Linked DNA regions of Homo sapiens: region 1 is linked to region 2. The links come from fine-mapping of genetic effects on gene expression. A gene starts in region 2. The other region holds a variant in brackets. All regions are shown on one strand. Distances are between the middles of the regions. Region 1 overlaps NPLOC4 (NPL4 homolog, ubiquitin recognition factor). Region 2 holds the start of HGS (hepatocyte growth factor-regulated tyrosine kinase substrate).

Region 1 (5,369 bases), 57 kb after region 2:
AAAAAAAAGTATTTCATAAGAGTGGCCAGGCGCAGTGGCTGACGCCTGTAATCGCAGCACTTTGGGAGGCCGAGGCGGGCGGATCACAAGGTCAGGAGATTGAGACCATCCTGGCTAACATGGTGAAACCCTATCTCTAGTAAAAATACAAAAAATTAGCCGGGTGTGGTGGCGGGCACCTGTAGTCCCAGCTGCTGGTGAGGCTGAGGCAGGAGAATGATGTGAACCCAGGAGGCGGAGCTTGCAGTGAGCTGAGATCGCGCCACTGCACTCCAGCCTGGGCGACAGAGTGAGACTGTCTCAAAAAAAAAAAAAAGTATGAATTGTAGATATGACTACAGTTGACTCAAAGAATCATCCCTGGCTCCTCCCTGGTCTCCTGACCTGCATTGTGTCCAGGATTCCCATGACAGTTTTTCTTTTTTTAACCAATCACAAAATATTTCATTTACTGTGATAGTTGCATATTATGTACTTCTTAGCTTATCTTCACAGTTTCTTCCTTATTTACTTTTCCCATGGATTCCCCCAGACTATTTCTGTCTGGTGTTGTTTCTCTTCAGACTGAAAAACATCCATTAGCCTTTGTTGTAGGTAGGTTTGTTGGTCACAGACCTTTGGGTTTTTTTGACCTGAAAATGTTTTCGTTTTGCCCTGTGTTTATATGAGGGTTATTTTCTTTTTTTTTGAGATGGCATCTCACTCTGTTGCCCAGGCTGGAGTGCAGTGGCATGATCTCGGCTCACTGCAACCTCTGCCTCCTGGGTTCAAGCAATCCTCTGCCTAAGCCTCTCGAGTAGCTAGGATTACAGGCACCCGCCACCATACCTGACTAATTTTTTGTATTTTTAGTAGAGACGGGGTTTCACTATCTTCACCATGCTGGTCTTGAACTCCCGACCTCGTGATCCACCCGCTTCAGTGTGAGCCACCGTGCCCAGCCATGAAGGATATATTTTCTTTTTCTTTTTTTTTTCTTTTTTTTTTTATGAGAGGGAGTCTCGCTCTGTCTCCAAGGCTGGAATGCAGTGGCATGATCTTGGCTCACTGCAAGCTCCGCCTCCCGGGTTCACGCCACTCTCCTGCCTCAGCCTCCCGAGTAGCTGGACTACAGGCGCCCACCACCATGCCTGGCTAATTTTTTGTATTTTTAGTAGAGACGGGATTTCACCATGTTAGCCAGGATGGTCTTCATCTCCTGACCTCGTGATCTGCCCGCCTTGGCCTCCCAAGGATATTTTCATTCAATACAAATTTCTTTTTTTGAGATGGAGTCTTTTTCTGTCGCCCAGGCTGGAATGTGGTGGCGTGATCTCGGCTCAGTGCAACCTCCGCCTCCTGGGTTCCAGCAGTTCTCCTGCCTCAGCCTCCCAAGTAGCTGGGATTACAGGTGTGCACCACAATACCTGGCTAATTTTTGTTTTTGTTTTTTGAGACAGAGTTTCGCTCTTGTTGCCCAGGCTGGAGTGTGATGGCATGATCTTGGCTCATTGCAGCCTCTGCCTCCTGTGTTCAAGCAATTCTCCTGCCTCAGCCTCCCGGGTTCAAGCAATTCTGCCTCAGCCTTCCGAGTAGCTGGGATTACAGGCATACGCCACCAAGTCCGGCTAAGTTTGTCTTTTTAATAGAGATGGAGTTTCACCATGTTGGTCAGGCTGGTCTCGAACTCCTGACCTCAGGTGATCCACCCGCCTTGGCCTCCCAAAGTGCTGGGGTTACAGGCGTGAGCCACTGCACCTGGCCTCAAAACAGATTTCTGAGTTGACAGTTCATTTTTGTTCCCCACCATGCATCAATTTTTTTTTTTTTTTGAGACGGAGTCTTTCTGTTGCCCAGGCTGGAATGCAGTGGCGCGATCTCGGCTCACTGCAAGCTCTGCCTCCCAGGTTCATGCCATTTCCCTGCCTCAGCCTCCCGAGTAGCTGGGACTACAGGCACCCGCCACCATGCCCGGCTAATGTTTTTTGTGTTTTTAGTAGAGATGGGGTTTCACTGTGTTAGTGAGGATGGTCTCGATCTCCTGACCTCATGATCCGCCTGCCTCGGCCTCCCAATGTGCCGGGATTACAAGAGTGAGCCACCACACCTGGCCCTTTTTCTTTTTTTTTTTTGAGACGAAGTCTCATTGTGTCGCCCAAGCTGGAGTGCAGCGGCACAATCTTGCCTCACTGCAACCTCCGCCTCCCGGGTTCAAGTGATTCTGTTGCCTCAGCCTCCCGAGTAGCTGGGACTACAGGCTCGCACCACCATGCCCAGCTGATTTTTGTATTTTTAGTAGAGACGAGGTTTCACTATGTTGGCCAGTCTGGTCTCGAATTCCTGATCTCAGGTGATCCGCCCGCCTCAGCCTCCCAAAGTGCTGGGATTACAGGTATGATCCACCCTCACCCAGTCCATTTTAAAATTATTATTATTATTATTTTTGCCTAGGTTGGAGTGCACTGGCAAAGTCACAGCTCACTGCAGCCTTGACTTCCCGGGCTCAAACGATCCTCCCACGTGAGCTTCCTAGCTAATTTCTTAATTTTTTGGTAGAGATGGGGTTTCACCATGTTGTCTAGGCTGGTCTTGATTTCCTCAAGTGATCCTCCCCACTCTGTCTCCTGGATGCTGGGATTCCAGGCGGGAGCCGCGGTGCCTGGTCCTGTTGAGCAT[T/C]TGAAGCTGTCGTTCCACCGTCTTCTTGGTCTTCTCGTCTTCGTTGACCTCTGGCTTTCAGTAGGGTGACTCTGGTGTGCCTTGCAGTGGTGTTCTTTGTATCTTAACTTGAGAGAGTTTGCTGAACTTCCTGGAGTTGCTATTTGATGTTTTTCATTAAATTTTGGGGTTTTCCCCACTCTTAAGTATTTTTCTGTTCTATTTTCATTCTTTTCTTTTTTTTTTTTCTTGAGATGGAGTCTCGCTCTGTTGCCCAGGCTGGAGTGCAGTGGCGCGATCTTGGCTGACTGCAACCTCCGCCTCCGGGGTTCAAGCGGTTTTCCTGGCTCAGCCTCCCGAGTAACTGAGATTACAGGCACGTGCCAGCTCACCTGGCTAATTTTTTTTTTTTTTTTTTGAGATGAAGTCTCACTCTGTCGCTTGGGCTGGAGTGCAGTGGCGCAATCTCTGCCCACTGCAACCTCCACCTCCCAGGTTCAAGCGATTCTCCTGTTTCAGCCTCCTGAGTAGCTGGGATTACAGGGGTGCACCACCACACCTGTCTAATTTTTGTATTTTTAGTAGAGATGGGATTTCACCATGTTGGCCAGGCTGGTCTCAAACTCCTGACTTCAGGTGATCTGCCCAACTCGGCCTCCCAAAGTGTTGGGATTACAGGCTTGAACCTCCGCGCCCAACCCTCATTTTTTTCTAGTGAGGAGCATTTGATCCTGTACCATGGGTTCCTAAGGCTGTTTTTTTTTTCCCCAAATCTCTGCCTTCAGATTATATAGCTGTTATTTTTATTGATTCATTTATGTTTTTCTTTTTAGAGTTGGTTGGATTCTCACTCTGTCGCTCAGGCTGGAGTGCAGTGGTGTGATCATATCTCATTGTAGCCTTAAACTTCTGGGCTCAAGCAGTGCTTCCACCTCAGCCTTCCGAGTTGCTGGGACCACAAGCTATTCACCTATGTTTAGGTTGACTCTTCTGCTCTCTCCCTTCTGCTGATAAGCCCGTTCAGTGAATTTTTTATTTCTGTTCTTGTGTTTTTCAGTTCTAGAATTTCCATTTGATTGTTCTTTTATGATTTGTTTCTTTACCGAGATTCACATTCCTTTTATTTGGGTACATCTACTCTGATGACCCCTCGGTGTAGAGCTCTTGCTCTGGCCCCTTGCCTGGGCTCAGACACAGATGCGCCCACCTGCCTGCTGGACGGCTTCACTGCAGTGTGTCTGGTTGTCACCTCCGATCTCAGTGTCAAATGGAAGTCCTGATTTTCCCTCTAGTCTTCTTCCTTTTTTAGCCTTTCCTTTCATGGTCCCTGCACAGGTGTTACCTCCACATAGTTTCTCAATCTAGAATTCTCAGCTTTACTCTGACCTCCTTCCTTTCTCTCATTCCATTCCTGCCCCTGGTCCTGCTCGTCAGCTGGGCCTGGTGATGACCACTGCTGGAAAGTGTGCTCTTGCCTTCATCCCCACCATCCTGTCCCATCTCATCCCCTGTCTCAGCCCATCTCTCTTGTCTCTAATTGGCACTCTAGCTTCCTCTTCAGTGTGGTGTTGAGCAACAGGGATTTTGTGGATGATGATTCCCCCTGCCTTTCGTCTGTGTGGCTTCCCACGGCCCTGTCTGCCTCGCCAGCCTCATCTCTTTCCATCTTCCTTATTGTTTATTGGCCTCTGGCCTCCGTGTTTCCAACACCCTTCCTGCCTCCTGGTCTTTGTGCTTGCTCCTACTCCCTGTGGCCTTTTCTCCCAGCTCGCGTGTGGCGGGCTTACCCACCGCTGGGTGGGCCCTGCTCAGCTGAAGCTCTTCAGAGAGACTTCTAGCCTCCCATCTGAGGTTTCTTTTCCTTTTCTGTCGTAGTGCTTATTTCGACCTTTGTTGACTTTGTCTCCCCCATTTGTTGGTAAACTGCTTGACAGCAGGAACCTTGTCTTTTTTTTGTTTTTCTTTTTTTGAGGTGGAGTCTTGTTCCGTTGCCCAGGCTAGAGTGTAATGGCGTGATCTCATCTCACTGCAGCTCCGCCTCCCAGGTCGAAGTGATTCTCCTGTCTCAGCCCACCGACTAGCTGGGACTGTAGGCGTGCACCACCATGCCTGGCTAATTTTTGTCTTTGTTTTTGTTTTTGTTTTTTTGAGACGGAGTTTCACTCTTGTCGCCCAGGCTGGAGTGCAATGGCGCCATCTTGGCTCACTGCAACCTCTGCCTTCTGGTTTCAAGCAATTCTCTTGCCGCAGCCTCCTGAGTAGCTGGGATAACAAGTGTCCGCCACCACGCCTAGCTAATTTTTGTATTTTAGTAGAAATGGGGTTTCATCAAGGTGGCCAGGCTGGCCTCGATCTCCTGACCTCGTGATCCGCCCACCTCGGCCTCCCAGAGTGCTGGGATTACAGGCGTGAGTCACCACACCTGGCCTAATTTTTGTATTTTTAGGAGAGATGGGGTTTCACCATGTTGGTCAGGCTGGTCTTGAACTCCTGACTTGAAGTGATCCACCCGCCTTGGCCTCCCGAAGTGCTGGGATTGCAGACATGAGCCACCACGCCCGGCCAGAAACCTTGTCTTTTCTAGTTCATTTTTGTGATCTGAACACCCAGAATGGAGCTGAGCACATAGAACTGCTTAATATTTGTTGAAGGAATGAGTGAATATTCCCAGCATCTAGCAAAGTGCCCTGCACAGTGGACGTTTTATGATTTAGTCGCACCATTCTGTGTTAGGT
Region 2 (5,320 bases):
AGCTACTCAGGAGGTTGAGGTGGGACGATCGTTTGAGCTTGGGAGGCAGGGGCTGCAGTGAGCTGAGATCACGCCACTGCACTTCAGCCTGGGTGACAAAGCAAGGCCCCGTCTTAAAAAAAAAAGTCTGTCTGCCATCTTAGTCTTTGAGAACCCCGAAGCAAATACAAACATAACCAGGTATCTGCAAGCTGTACAGAGAAAACCCCTTAATCCTCCAAGATGTCAAAAAATCCTAGCATGTAGCCCATGCAGTTCTCCACATAAGAGCCTAACACGGTCAGCTACGTCGTGGAGACCCAACGGGCACCAAGCGAGCCCAGCTTAGTGCACGGCTGCTCCTCCGCATCAGGGCACAGGCCCCGCTAACTCACTGTGTGTCCCCTTGGCGGATCAGGTCGCAGATCTGCAAAATGGACTCCCAATCTGTCTCCAACAGGAGCTGGCTGGTCGCCTTGTCTGAGAGAGAAAATGCCATGAAAGGGAGGGGTTATCCTGCTGGACGCCCCGTGCAGCACCCCAGCTTGGCAGCAGCTGGGGGGGACTCTCTCCTTCCCCTTTAGACATTTGGACCAAATGAAAAAGCATGACAGAATCCTCCTGAGCGTGCTGATGGGCAGGGAAGTGCCATCCTCCCCAGGGAAGCAGCAAACAGCGTAAGAGCACACCAGGTGCTGGTCCAAGCCCTCCCACAACCCGCGAGCGAGGTAAAGACACTCAGCAGAGAGGCGAGGGCACTGCCGTGAGTCACACAGCTCACCAGAGACAGAGGCTGATTCACTCTTAAACATCAGGCTCGGCTGCTTCTCAACAAAGAACCCTATCACCCGTCCCTTGGAGTCCCCGTTCGCCCAGATGCTCCCGGTTTCAATGGGACCTTAGCTTGGGCAAGGGCTAGAGAGGCCTGCAGTGTAGACTCCAGGCCCCTTGCTCCAAGCCAAGTGCTTTGGAAATAAGGGCAGAACGGGGCTCCAAGGAGGACTCGCCAGCATACCTGTCATCATACCACATCACTGCTGTCTCCAACAACTGGCCCCTCTGGGGGGGCAGCTCCAGCTCTGCCCACATCGCCTTTCCCGGATACAGAAACGATCTAACAAGCCAAGCCACGTCCACTTTCTATACTGATTCAGTAGTTAACCTCTGGATTCATCCCTGAAGCACTGAACTACCTGTGTGGCTGAGATACTCAGTCTGCTTGCTGGTTCCCTTGGCAAGGAAGGTGTCTCACTTGAAGTCTCCTTGAAAACCCTACTTGACAAAAAGGCAAGCTTGGGCAGCCCATTCGACCACCCAAGCTCCTACCCCCAAACATTAGACGCATTTTCCACGTGCTGCTGGGCACGTGCACATCAACATTCGTTTCCCTCCCAAAACGCGTCAATTCCAGGAGGCTCAGATAGGATCAGCTTTCACCTCCAAAAACGTGAGAAAACGCCTTCCTAAACCATTAGGCACTTCCCGAAGCCAGTGTGGGAACAAAAGGTGGGTCTGGGACCCGCAGCCCCCAAGAGAGCTCGAAGGTCCCAGAGAGAACACTGCCGGCTCCACCCTTCGAGGCCCAGTGTTTTGGGTCAGAAGCCCAAGTGCGAGCCTAACATCCGACTGAGTCACCCACTTTCATGACTCAGGCCTTGTGGCCCACTCGGCCGGGTGCTCGTCGGTCAAGAGGAAATCGGCCGAATGCCCGGGCCCGCGGAGGAGCGAGGTCGCCGAGCGCCCCTGGCGCCCTGCGCGGACCCTCGCAGAGCCCCATTTGCCAACGCCCGACGGACGCCGACCCCACGGCCGCGCCGAGGGTCCAGGATCGGCGGCTCCGAACCCGGGAGGACAGCGGGCCGGGGAGAGGCGGGCAGGGCGGCCGGTCCGCGCCCCTCGGGCCCTCGGGGCCGCGCTGACTCAGCGCCGGGCGGAGGCTGCGGGCTGACCAAGGCCGAGCCGTCGGGTGGGGACGCGTTACCTAGGAGACGCTCGAAGGTGCCGCTGCCTCGCCCCATGGCGACCTCCAGCCCAAACCCGACGCCGCGGGCGCTCCCCTGCTACGAGCTGGCGCGCCCCCCGACTTCCGCTTCCGCCTTTTCCCTCCAGTGCGCGCACGCGCACGTCACCGCGCCGGCCCTAGAGCCGCGAGGAGGCGGGGTCTTCCGCTCTCCCGCTAACGCTGCGCGCTAATTGGACGCGCCCTTGGAACAATGAGCCCTAAGAACCAATGAGAAGTCCGAAGGTGAGAACTATCCAATGAGAGTGGCCGGTGGGCGGGCCTTGAGCCGCGGCGCCGAGCTACGGGTGCCGGGTGGAGCGAAGCACGGAATGTGTCTCCTGCTGGGGGCCACGGGCGTCGGGAAGACGCTGCTGGTGAAACGGCTGCAGGATATCCTTCCGCGCGGGGACGGGACCGGGGCGCGGGGGGCACCCGGAGTGGGGCGGGGACTCACCCTTTAGCTGCTCGGGTCCTTGACCGCTTCGCACAGGTGAGCTCCCGGGATGGGAAAGGCGACCTGGGGGAGCCGCCCCCGACACGGCCCACGGTAGGTGTCCGCCCCCGCGGGTGGAGTTGCGGGGGGTCAGTTCTGCGCTTGGCGAAGAGCTCCGGGCTCCTCTAAGTGCACGCCGAGGCGCAGCGGGTCAGGTCGTGACTTAAGGCCAGCCTTCGGGAGCGGGGGACGGCCCGAGCTGAGGATAATTGGCGCGGGATGAGGGGGCCTGCCGCCCTCCACGGGCACTTCCTCTCCCCTCGCAACGGCTTCCTGTGGCTGGTCGCCCCCACAGCGAGTCCAGCTACTGATGGGCGTCGGTCCCTGCTCGCCGTTCCTGCGTTAGGGAGAATGGGTCTGCGGGGTTCAGGCCACCGTGTAAGGTGTGGGCACGGTGCTCTTCAGGAGTTCACAACGGGACAGCGGTTGTATTGTTCTTTTTGCATCGTGGTTTTTCCTATAGGTGGGCACCAATCTTACTGACATCGTGGCACAGAGAAAGATCACCATCCGGGAGCTTGGGGGGTGCATGGGCCCCATCTGGTCCAGTTACTATGGAAACTGCCGTTCTCTCCTGGTGGGTTGTAATCCTATATGGGCTTCCTTTAGGGAAGTGTGTCTACATTTCTGTGACGTCCAGTCCCCAACCTTGCTGTGTGTAGAAAGGGGTTTGGGTTATTTAGTGACTATACTACTCATGGAAATAGGTCTTAGCTAGTGTTGCTTCCTGCTGGGCACCCTGTCTGGTTTCTGGTGCTTGCGCTCCCAGGCCCCCGGTAGGAGCTCACAGAGGGCTTGCTGAGGGCAGGGCTGCTGCTCCGCAGAGAACAGACTTGGCCCTCTGTGTCACTCCCCGGTACGTCTGTGTTTATGTTGGACTTATACGTACCTCTGGTTGGTCTCATCTTGATAAGGCCTGTGCCGCGGATACCAGTATGGAGAACTGATGGCCACATGAGGACAGAGACGAGTGACACCAGGTCGTCTTCATAAAACTCGATTCCCTCTGCTTCTGCTTGTTCCCAAAGCTTTGTTTAAAGCTACTTTGGGCCGGGCGCGGTGGCTTACTCCTGTAATCCCAGCACTTTGGGAAGCTGAGGTGGGCGAATCACGAGGTCAGGAGATGGAGACCATCCTGACTAACATGGTGAAACCCCGTCTCTACTAAAAGTACAAAAAATTAGCCAGGCGTGGTGGCGGGTGTCTGTAGTCCCAGTTACTTGGGAGGCTGAGGCAGGAGAATCACTTGAACCCTGAACCCTGGAGGCGGAGTTTCAGTGAGCCGAGATCGTGCCACTGCACTCGGAGCGAGACTTCGTCTCAAAAAATAAATTAATTAATTAAAAAATGCAGTTTTGCTCTCCCAGTGCCAGGTCTGTGAGGCCCAGGGGAGGAAGTTTGGCAGCGGGGCATTGCTGCTGTCTTTTTCTTTTTCCCCAGTTTGTGATGGACGCCTCTGACCCCACCCAGCTCTCTGCATCCTGTGTGCAGCTCTTAGGTCTCCTTTCTGCAGAACAACTTGCAGAAGCATCGGTGCTGATACTCTTCAATAAAATGTACGCGTCCCTGAGCTGAGAGGGAGCACAGCGGGGGCGGGGGCTCCCTCGGGTTACAGCCGGAAGCATGGCTCGGTAGGGAGGTGGTGCAGCTGGGGGTCCGGGGCAGGTGTGTGGCTGCCACTGCTCTGATGGGGCACCTCTTTCTCTCCAGCGACCTACCCTGTTACATGTCCACGGAGGAGATGAAGTCATTAATCAGGCTTCCAGACATCATTGCTTGTGCCAAGCAGAACATCACCACGGCAGAAATCAGCGCCCGTGAAGGCACTGGCTTAGCAGGGGTGCTGGCCTGGCTCCAGGCCACCCACAGAGCCAACGATTGACTGCACGGCAGAGGCGCAGCTGGCCTGAGCTGGGGAGAGGTGGCAGAGGGCAGTATGGCTTTGCTGCCAATAGTTTCTTCTCACAGGGGCAGAATAACCCAAAGTAACCCTACATGATGGGGCTCTGTGCTGAGATGCAATGATGTGTAAACTGAGGCATGTGGAGATGGAAGTTGACATCTGGCCTCTGAAAAAAGTGTCCCCAGGGGCTAGGCATGGTGGCTCACACCTGTAATCCCAGCACTTTGAGAGGCCGAGGCGGGTGTATCACCTGAGGTCGGGAGTTCGAGACTAGCCTGACCAACATGGAGAAACCCTGTCTCTACTAAAAATACAAAATTAGCTGGGTGTGCTGGTGCATGCCTGTAATCTCAGCTACTTGGGAGGCTGAGACAGGAGAATCCCTTGAACCTGGGAGGTGGAGGTTGCAGTGAGTCGAGATCATGCCATTGCACTGCACCTGGGCAACAAGAGTGAAACTCCGTCTTAAAAAATATAAGAAATAAAAAAATAAAAACCTGTCCCCAGACTGGATGAGCAGGGCCTGCAGATGGCCGAGTGTTCTGTATCTTAGAGTGGTGCTATTGGGGTTGGCTCACCTCCTTCCTGGAGACCTGCTGGACTGCCCCCAAGGCGTATGGACTGCACAGTGCCACTGAAACCTGGCCTCTTGCTGTAGCACAACCTCCAACCTGCTGAGCCGCTGGTACCCTGACCCTGCATCTGCCACAGACGGCATGAGGCAGGTGAAGTGAGTGTGGTAGTAAGAGCCAGGCCTCGAGTTAGAAACAAGCTGGTGGCCGGACGCAGTGGCTCACGCCTGTAATCCCAGCACTTTGGGAGGCTGAGGCAGGCAGATCACCAGATCAGGAGTTCGAGACCAGACTGGCCAACATGGTGAAACCCTGTCACTACTAAAAATACAAAAAATTAGCTGGGCGTGGTGGCTTATGCCTGTAATCCC

What was found. PIP is the estimated chance that this variant, and not a neighbour inherited with it, causes the effect.
Region 1: its variant is fine-mapped to the expression of HGS in whole blood (TOPMed, PIP above 0.99).

The regions. Positions count from the first base shown.
Region 1 is chr17:81,623,832-81,629,200 of GRCh38, reverse strand. All of the region lies in intron 2 of NPLOC4 (NPL4 homolog, ubiquitin recognition factor), which reads left to right. Among named protein-coding and RNA genes, the nearest start is that of NPLOC4, 11 kb to the left of the region's middle. The variant T/C (reference allele first, on the strand shown) is at 2,656.
Region 2 is chr17:81,680,744-81,686,063 of GRCh38, reverse strand. HGS (hepatocyte growth factor-regulated tyrosine kinase substrate) reads right to left here and starts at 2,053. Exons shown (of 22, transcript NM_004712.5): 1 at 1,961-2,053; 2 at 375-459. The coding sequence starts at 1,997. ARL16 (ARF like GTPase 16) reads left to right here and starts at 2,267. Exons shown (of 5, transcript NM_001040025.3): 1 at 2,267-2,371; 2 at 2,470-2,528; 3 at 2,938-3,051; 4 at 3,915-4,030; 5 at 4,185-4,877. The coding sequence starts at 2,311. The coding sequence ends at 4,356. RefSeq lists silencers at 1,823-1,922, 2,133-2,192, 2,403-2,482 and enhancers at 2,071-2,365, 2,583-2,802.